Homo sapiens: one gene and its partner. Each later gene encodes a partner of the first gene's protein in a complex. Each region holds a gene or a part of one and is shown on either strand. Other genes may lie near its edges. A codon is read from its position in the direction of its gene.

Region 1 (3,745 bases):
AGCGGTGATACCCCAACCAGTACTCCCCACTCCTACCCCTAGATAAGGTCAGCCTGTTTCTGCCTTCCCATCCCATCCAGCACCTCTCAGGCCTTCAGATGTGCCCTATGGGGTCCCCTGCTGCTACTCATTCTGTCTCTGTTTTTCCAGAGATGCTGGAGGCCAGGACAGCTGGGCACATGCAGACTCTGGCTGACTTCAGGCAGCTGCCTGCCCGGACTCTCTCTACCCACTGGCCACGTGAGTTTTCTCCTTAATCCCCACCGCTAGAGAGAATGCATACACGAGGGGCCAGGAGGGAAGCCAGACAGAAAGCTCCTAGGATTAGGGATAAGAGGAGGGGAAAAAGCAGAGTCCACTGTTTAGGAGAGGAGTTGGCCAACGGTGGCGGGTGGGATAGAATAAGGTGGGGGAAAGGGGAGAGGCAAGGTGACAGGAGGGCTGGGCTGAGGGAGCCAAGGGCTAGACCCTCCCCTAACCCCTGTGTGTCCCCTCCTATTACAGCCCAAAGATCCCTGTGCAGCTCCGATTTTATTCGCATCCTTGTGATCTTCTCTGGAATGTTCCTTGTTTTCACCCTGGCCGGGGCCCTGTTCCTCCATCAACGAAGGAAATATAGATCAAGTAAGAGACAGAACACAGGCCTCCGGTCCTGCCCCTGCACCACACCCCACTGGCTCAACCCCACTGCCCACGCCTGGAATCTCACTGAAACCCACCAGCTCCACTTCACCAGCCTTGGTCCTACCCCTTCTCTCCCCTTAGCTGGCGTGCTCCTGACACCCCTCCCCCAAGCGCACCCGCCTCTACCCATCTCCTTCTCCCGTCTCCCCCTGCCCCCACTGCTGGCCAAGACTCATCGGATCTCCTTCTGCAGACAAAGGAGAAAGTCCTGTGGAGCCTGCAGAGCCTTGTCATTACAGCTGCCCCAGGGAGGAGGAGGGCAGCACCATCCCCATCCAGGAGGATTACCGAAAACCGGAGCCTGCCTGCTCCCCCTGAGCCAGCACCTGCGGGAGCTGCACTACAGCCCTGGCCTCCACCCCCACCCCGCCGACCATCCAAGGGAGAGTGAGACCTGGCAGCCACAACTGCAGTCCCATCCTCTTGTCAGGGCCCTTTCCTGTGTACACGTGACAGAGTGCCTTTTCGAGACTGGCAGGGACGAGGACAAATATGGATGAGGTGGAGAGTGGGAAGCAGGAGCCCAGCCAGCTGCGCCTGCGCTGCAGGAGGGCGGGGGCTCTGGTTGTAAAACACACTTCCTGCTGCGAAAGACCCACATGCTACAAGACGGGCAAAATAAAGTGACAGATGACCACCCTGCAGCTCTCCAGCTTCCTCTCTGAAATCCCAGTCCCAAAATCCAGTTTCCTGGCCGCCTCCTGGCTCAGGTCAGGATCTGGCAGAGGAGGTTTCTCAGCCGGTTATGTTGGGGCCTGCTTAAGGGCGGGGGTGAGAAAGGTCCCCAGGCTACTGTGGATCCTGTGTCTGACTTCAGATCCCCTTTTCCCACAGTTATAGCTCCACTTTTTTGGGACAGGTGGGGAGCAAAAGGGTGCAGAGGTCAGGTCTTGAAATCACCAGGGGATTTCCGGGTGAGGTGGGTGGTGAGAAAGGAAACAGCAAGCAGGGCTCTGGCAGCTGCTGCAGACGGCTTCACACAGGGACGCGGGCTGCCATCTTGCTCTAAGTGAAAGTGAAAGAAAAGTCGGCAGCAGAGGGAACAGGGAAGAAACCTAAAGGCTGCAGGCTGCCAGGTGTGCTTGGAGAGCCCCCTTCTTCCGCCGGGCCTCGCAAGCAGCGTAGGACTGTGGAGAAGGGCGGTGGGCAAGGAGGGAACTCGAGAGCAGCCTCCATGGGCACACAGGAGGGCTGGTGCCTGCTGCTCTGCCTGGCTCTATCTGGAGCAGCAGAAACCAGTGAGTCTGGGAGTCGGGGAGAGCTGGCTGGGAGAAGAGCTACTGAAGCCCCAGGGTGCCACCCTCCCCGAGATTCCAGAAGAGCAAAGGGGCCGGGGATGACCCCATCGCCTTCTAAGCCCAACAGGGGAAAGGCTCAGCGGCTGGCAAAGGAAGGAACCAATAGTGTGTGTGGAGGGAGGGTGGGGACTCCACAGGGAAAATGCTAAAGAGGGGCTGCCTCTGTGGCTGTGGTCAGGAGCCACTGTCCTACAGAGAGGGCACTGGCCTGGGAGCTGACACTTCAGAAGAGGAAAGGACTCCCCAGGTGAGGAAATCACTTGGAAGGTGACCTTGAAGGCGGGGGAGGGGAAGGCTACCCGAAATGGGAGAAAGCAGTGCAGGCTGTCAGTGCCCCAGCAACAGTAACTGTCCAGTCTCCTCTCTCTGCGGTGGCACTTGCTTGTTTTCTGAGAATTCCTTTGACTGAAAAGATAGTCTTTTATTCAACAGTTGGAAATGCAAGCATAAACTCCTCTGAGCAAGGCAAATCCAGGACTTTAACTCTCACCAAGAAGTATTTGCCTGGACTAGCAGGTGCTCTCCAGAAAGCTGGTTTGGGGATGACGGGAGAATAGAGGGACACAGAAACAGCTAGGATCTTGGATGGCAACTTTTACCCTTTGATGACTCCACAGCTTGAGGGCGGGGGCAGGAAGCAAGTGTGGAGTAGCTTTCTGGGGAAGGCGGTGCTCACCCCAGCCTTTGTCTGCAGAGCCCCACCCAGCAGAGGGGCAGTGGCGGGCAGTGGACGTGGTCCTAGACTGCTTCCTGGCGAAGGACGGTGCGCACCGTGGAGCTCTCGCCAGCAGTGAGGACAGGGCAAGGGCCTCCCTTGTGCTGAAGCAGGTGCCAGTGCTGGACGATGGCTCCCTGGAGGACTTCACCGATTTCCAAGGGGGCACACTGGCCCAAGATGACCCACCTATTATCTTTGAGGCCTCAGGTAAAAGCCTTCCACCTGTGTCCTTGGTCCTCCCGGGCTCCCTCCACCAGGACAGCCCAGGTCCCGATTACAGCCACACATACTGCCTCCCGTTGGCCCTGGTGTTCTCACGCTAATTTGCCCTCTGTGTGTGCCCTGCTTCTCCCCAGTGGACCTGGTCCAGATTCCCCAGGCCGAGGCCTTGCTCCATGCTGACTGCAGTGGGAAGGAGGTGACCTGTGAGATCTCCCGCTACTTTCTCCAGATGACAGAGACCACTGTTAAGACAGCAGCTTGGTTCATGGCCAACATGCAGGTCTCTGGAGGGGGACCTAGCATCTCCTTGGTGATGAAGACTCCCAGGGTCACCAAGAATGAGGCGCTCTGGCACCCGACGCTGAACTTGCCACTGAGCCCCCAGGGGACTGTGCGAACTGCAGGTAAGAAAATGAAAAGCAAGGCCAGGTGTGGTGGCTCACGCCTGTAATTCCAGAATTTTGGGATACCGAGGTCGGTGGATCACCTGAGGTCAGGAGTTTGAGATCAGCCTGGTCAACACGGTGAAACCCCGTCTCTACTAATACCAAAATTAGCCGGGCATGGTGGCGGGTGCCTGTAATCCCAGCTACGAGGGAGGCTGAGGCAGGAGAATCGCTTGAACCCGGAAGGCAGAGGTTGCGGTGAGCCGAGATCACACCATGGCACTTCAGCCTGGGCAACAAGAGCGAAACTCCATCTCAAAAAAAAAAAAGAAAAGAAAAGAAAAGCAAGTCACAGAAAGTTTTGCTTTTCTAAAGTGGTAAGATATGGGGCACAGAAGAAGAAAGGGAACAAATCCACCTCCATCCACACTGGTCAC
Region 2 (3,745 bases), on another chromosome or scaffold:
TTTTGTCTGATCTTTTTTTTTTTTTTTTTTTTGAGACAGAGTCTCACTCTGTCGCCCAGGCTGGAGTGCAGTGGCGTGATCTTGGCTCACTGCAAGCTCCGCCTCCCGGGTTCACACCATTCTCCTGCCTCAGCCTCCCAAGTAGCTGGGACTACAGGTGCCTGCCACAACGCCTGGCTAATTTTTTGTATTTTTAGTAGAGACGGGGTTTCACCATGTTAGCCAGGTTGGTCTCGATCTCCTGACCTCATGATCCGCCCGCGTCGGCCTCCCAAAGTGCTGGGATTACAGGCGTGAGCCACTGCGCCCGGCCTGATCTTTTTTCTTAACTATATGCTTATAAATGAGGAGGAAGGAATGAATATCATTAAGTGGTATTCACCCTTGCAAGATTCTCTATAGTGGCAAGGGCCAGGTTAGAAGATCTGAATGTAGGGGAGGTCCTAAAGGTGATGGCAGCAGCAGGGTGGGCAATCTGGAAAGACTGGGGAAGTGTTGTGTAGTACAGCTCTTAGACACAGGCAAGAGAAGCCCCTGGATATGGCCCCACATTCAGAGAGCCCCACTCTGGCCCTCTGCTACCCACATCCTTTCCCACAGAGCGAGGAGTGCGTGAGGCTGAGGGGAGGTGGTAACCCTGTGTCTGGGCCCCTCCACTCTAGACCAGACTCCAGGCACCCAGGAACCTGGAGTTCCCCACTCAGCTGACTCAGAGCTGCTGAGGTTTACACAACAAACTCGCACTTTGGCCCATCCTCCTAAAGGTGGACTGGCTGCCCTTGAGGGCCTTGCTAGGCCTGAGGGGTGGCCAAGAGGTGGGAGGATCACTTAAGCCCAGGACAAGCTCAGACAAGAGGCAGTTTGTGGCTGAGCCTGAATAAAAAAGTAGAGGTGTTTAATTGTGGGAGGCCCTTGGCAGTGCTGGAAGGAGCAAGAAACAGGAAGAAAAAGAGGTGAGTCTCAGGCTGAGGGCCGGGGACTGGAGGGAGACACCAGCTTTCTCTGTGCCGCCCCATTCAGGCCCAGAACTTCACACAGTGTGAGATTTTTTAATTTGAACTTGGTCTTCGAAGCCATACAAAGGGCAATCTCTCAAGGTGGGGGGATAGAACATATTTCAAGTTTGTTAGATTGATTTATTCCTTTTAAATATCTGGATCTCTGGTATGTGAGCCTCCATCTGTCATCTCAATTTAGCCATGAAATTTTAGGGATGATCCTGTTTTAGGGATGAAATGTTTTTGGAGGTGGGTTTTGAGGACTGGGAAGGATTTAGATGGGTCAGAATGGCAGGAGATAACAGGACAAAAGGCTTGGACATGGGCATCTGCAGACACCGGCAGGCAGAGTAGGGGAAGAAAGCCATTGTGGCTGCATACCTTCTATTTGCCAGCTTTTGGGGATGGCATGGGGTACGTAGCCTTCTCAGCCTGGGCTCCACCTCCCAGGCATCGCCTCTGCCCGTGACGCCTGTCACTGTGCTCCAGACGTCCCAGGCCATTTGGTTCCCATGCACGCCCCGCCTTCTCGAACCTCCTGCTTGCACATGTGGTCTCTGCCCTGCTCCCCCTGCCCGCCCTCCTGCATCCCCTCCCAGCCCCTCTGCCTACTCACCTCCTACCTGTCCCTGAGACCTCCCTAAGACATCACCTTCTCTGGAAGTCTCTCCTAAGGGCCCACACCAGCTTGGATCCCATAACACTGAGAGGTGACAGCGTGCTGGCAGTCCTCACAGCCCTAGCTCGCTCTTGGCGCCTCCGCTGCCTGGGCTCCCACTTTGGCGGCACTTGAGGAGCCCTTCAGCCCACCGCTGCACTGTGGGAGCCCCTTTCTGGGCTGGCCAAAGCCGGAGCCCGCTCCCGCAGCTTGCAGGGAGGTGTGGAGGGAGAGGCGCGAGCGGGAACCCGGGCTGCGGGCGGCGCTTGCGGGCCAGCTGGAGTTCCAAGTGGGCGTGGGCTTGGCGGGCCCTGCACTGGGGGCAGCCGGCCCTGCCGGCCCGGGCAATGAGGGGCTTAGCACCCGGGCCAGCGGCTGCGGAGGGTGTACTGGGTCCCCCAGAAGTGCCAGCCCACCAGCGCTGCAGCTCGATTTCTCGCCGGGCCTTAGCTGCCTTCCTGCGGGGCAGGGCTTGGGGACCTGCAGCCCGCCATGCCTGAGCCTCCCACCCCCTCCATGGGCCTCTGTGCGGCCCGAGCCTCCCCGATGAGCGCCACCCCTGCTCCACGGCGCCAGTCCCATGACCACCCAAGGGCTGAGGAGTGCGGGCGCACGGCGCGGGAATGGCAGGCAGCTCCACCTGCAGCCCCAGTGGGGGATCCACTGGGTGAAGCCAGCTGGGCTCCTGAGTCTGGTGGGGACGTGGAGAACCTTTATGTCTAGCTAAGGGATTGTAAATACACCAATCGGCACTCTGTATCTAGCTCAAGGTTTGTAAACACCAATCAGCACCCTGTGTCTAGCTCAGGGTTTGTGACTGCACCAATCGACACTCTGCATCTAGCTACTCTGGTGGGGACTTGGAGAACCTTTGTGTGGACACTGTATCTAGCTAATCTGGTGGGGACGTGGAGAACCTTTGTGTCTAGCTGAGGGATGGTAAACGCACCAATCAGTGCCCTGTCAAAACAGACCACTGGGCTCTACCAATCAGCAGGATGTGGGTGGGGCCAGATAAGAGAATAAAAGCAGGCTGCCCGAGCCAGCAGTGGCAACCGTCTCGGGTCCGCTTCCACACTGTGGAAGCTTTGTTGTTTCGCTCTTTGCAATAAATCCTGCTGCTGCTCACTCTTTGGGTCCACACTGCCTTTATGAGCTGTGACACTCATGGCGAAGGTCTGCAGCTTCACTCCTGAAGCCAGCGAGACCACGAGCCCACCAGGAGGAACGAACAACTCCAGACGCACCGCCTTTAGAGCTGTAACACTCACTGCGAAGGTCTGCAGCTTCACTCCTGAGCCAGCGAGAGCACCAACCCAACAGAAAGAAGAAACTCCAAACACATCCGAACATCAGAAGGAAAAAACTCCAGACGCGCCACCTTAAGAGCTGTAACACTCACCGCGAGGGTCCACGGCTTCATTCTTGAAGTCAGTGACACCAAGAACCCACCAATTGCGGACACACCACCACCCATAATGCCACCTTGAAACCACTTTGTCTCCGTCAGGCCCTAAGCTTCTTGGACAAGCGGAGAGAAGTTCAATGTGGGAACAGCAGGGAGGGCCAAACAGTTTTGTTTCATTTTGGTTTACTTTTAACCCTTATTACAATCCTTATAACTAGTAAGTAGAAAAAGAATAAGAAAATGGTTAACAGCAGTGGTTTGACATAATAGGAAAAGCACTGTGCTTTAAAAAAAAAAAAAATTTCGGCCGGCCATGGTGGCTCACACCTGTAATCCCAGCAATTTGGGAGGCCGAGGTGGGCAGATCATGAGGTCAGGAATTCGAGACCAGCCTGACTAACATGGCAAAACCCTGTTTTTACTAAAAATACAAAAATTAGCCAGGCATGCTGGCACATACCTGTAATCTCAGCTACTCAGTAGGCTGAGGCAGGAGAATCACTTGAACCCAGGAGGCAGAGGTTGCAGTGAGCCAAGGTCACGCCACTGCACTCCAGCCTGGGCAACAGAGTGAGACTCTGTCTCAAAAAAATAAATAAATAGGCTGGGCACGGTGGTTCACGCCCATAATCCCAGCACTTTGGGAGGCCAAGGCAGGCGGATCACGAGGTCAGGAGTTTG

The links. Proteins that work in one complex are often made in the same cells at the same time.
Region 2: the proteins of TAPBPL (region 1) and MR1 are in contact, whole or in part, in an NMR structure (PDB 7RNO), measured with the Homo sapiens proteins. Residues at the interface, in NP_060479.3 of Homo sapiens: His47 (codon at 2,751), Arg48 (codon at 2,754), Gly49 (codon at 2,757), Ala50 (codon at 2,760), Ala52 (codon at 2,766), Ser53 (codon at 2,769), Ser54 (codon at 2,772), Leu129 (codon at 3,146), Met131 (codon at 3,152), Thr132 (codon at 3,155), Glu133 (codon at 3,158), Thr135 (codon at 3,164), Arg228, Gln230, Lys232, Gly233, Arg234, Gly235, Thr280, Ile282, Gln293, Ile295, Gln297, Arg307, Leu308, Ser309, Ile320, Cys321, Asp322, Leu355; in NP_001372090.1 of Homo sapiens: Arg101, Arg104, His105, Asn107, Thr129, Gly130, Phe131, Leu132, Gln133, Ile143, Phe144, Asn145, Asp147, Thr148, Leu152, Ala153, Val154, His159, Thr160, Lys162, Gln163, Ala164, Ala167, Asn168, Gln169, His170, Thr213, Phe214, Pro215, Asp248.

What each region holds. Positions count from the first base shown.
Region 1 is NC_000012.12:6,450,391-6,454,135, forward strand, and holds the start of TAPBPL (tapasin-related protein isoform 1 precursor), read left to right. Parts: upstream 1-1,651; 5' UTR 1,652-1,858; coding exon 1,859-1,922; intron 1,923-2,160; exon of another isoform or gene 2,161-2,229; intron 2,230-2,676; coding exon 2,677-2,907; intron 2,908-3,056; coding exon 3,057-3,326; intron 3,327-3,745. Other genes in the region: CD27 antigen, read left to right, coding at 151-240, 505-624, 766-1,184. UniProt on the Homo sapiens protein: Component of the antigen processing and presentation pathway, which binds to MHC class I coupled with beta2-microglobulin/B2M. Association between TAPBPR and MHC class I occurs in the absence of a functional peptide-loading complex (PLC).
Region 2 is NC_000001.11:181,043,950-181,047,694, forward strand, and holds part of MR1 (major histocompatibility complex class I-related protein 1 isoform 1 precursor), read left to right. Parts: intron 1-3,745. UniProt on the Homo sapiens protein: Antigen-presenting molecule specialized in displaying microbial pyrimidine-based metabolites to alpha-beta T cell receptors (TCR) on innate-type mucosal-associated invariant T (MAIT) cells.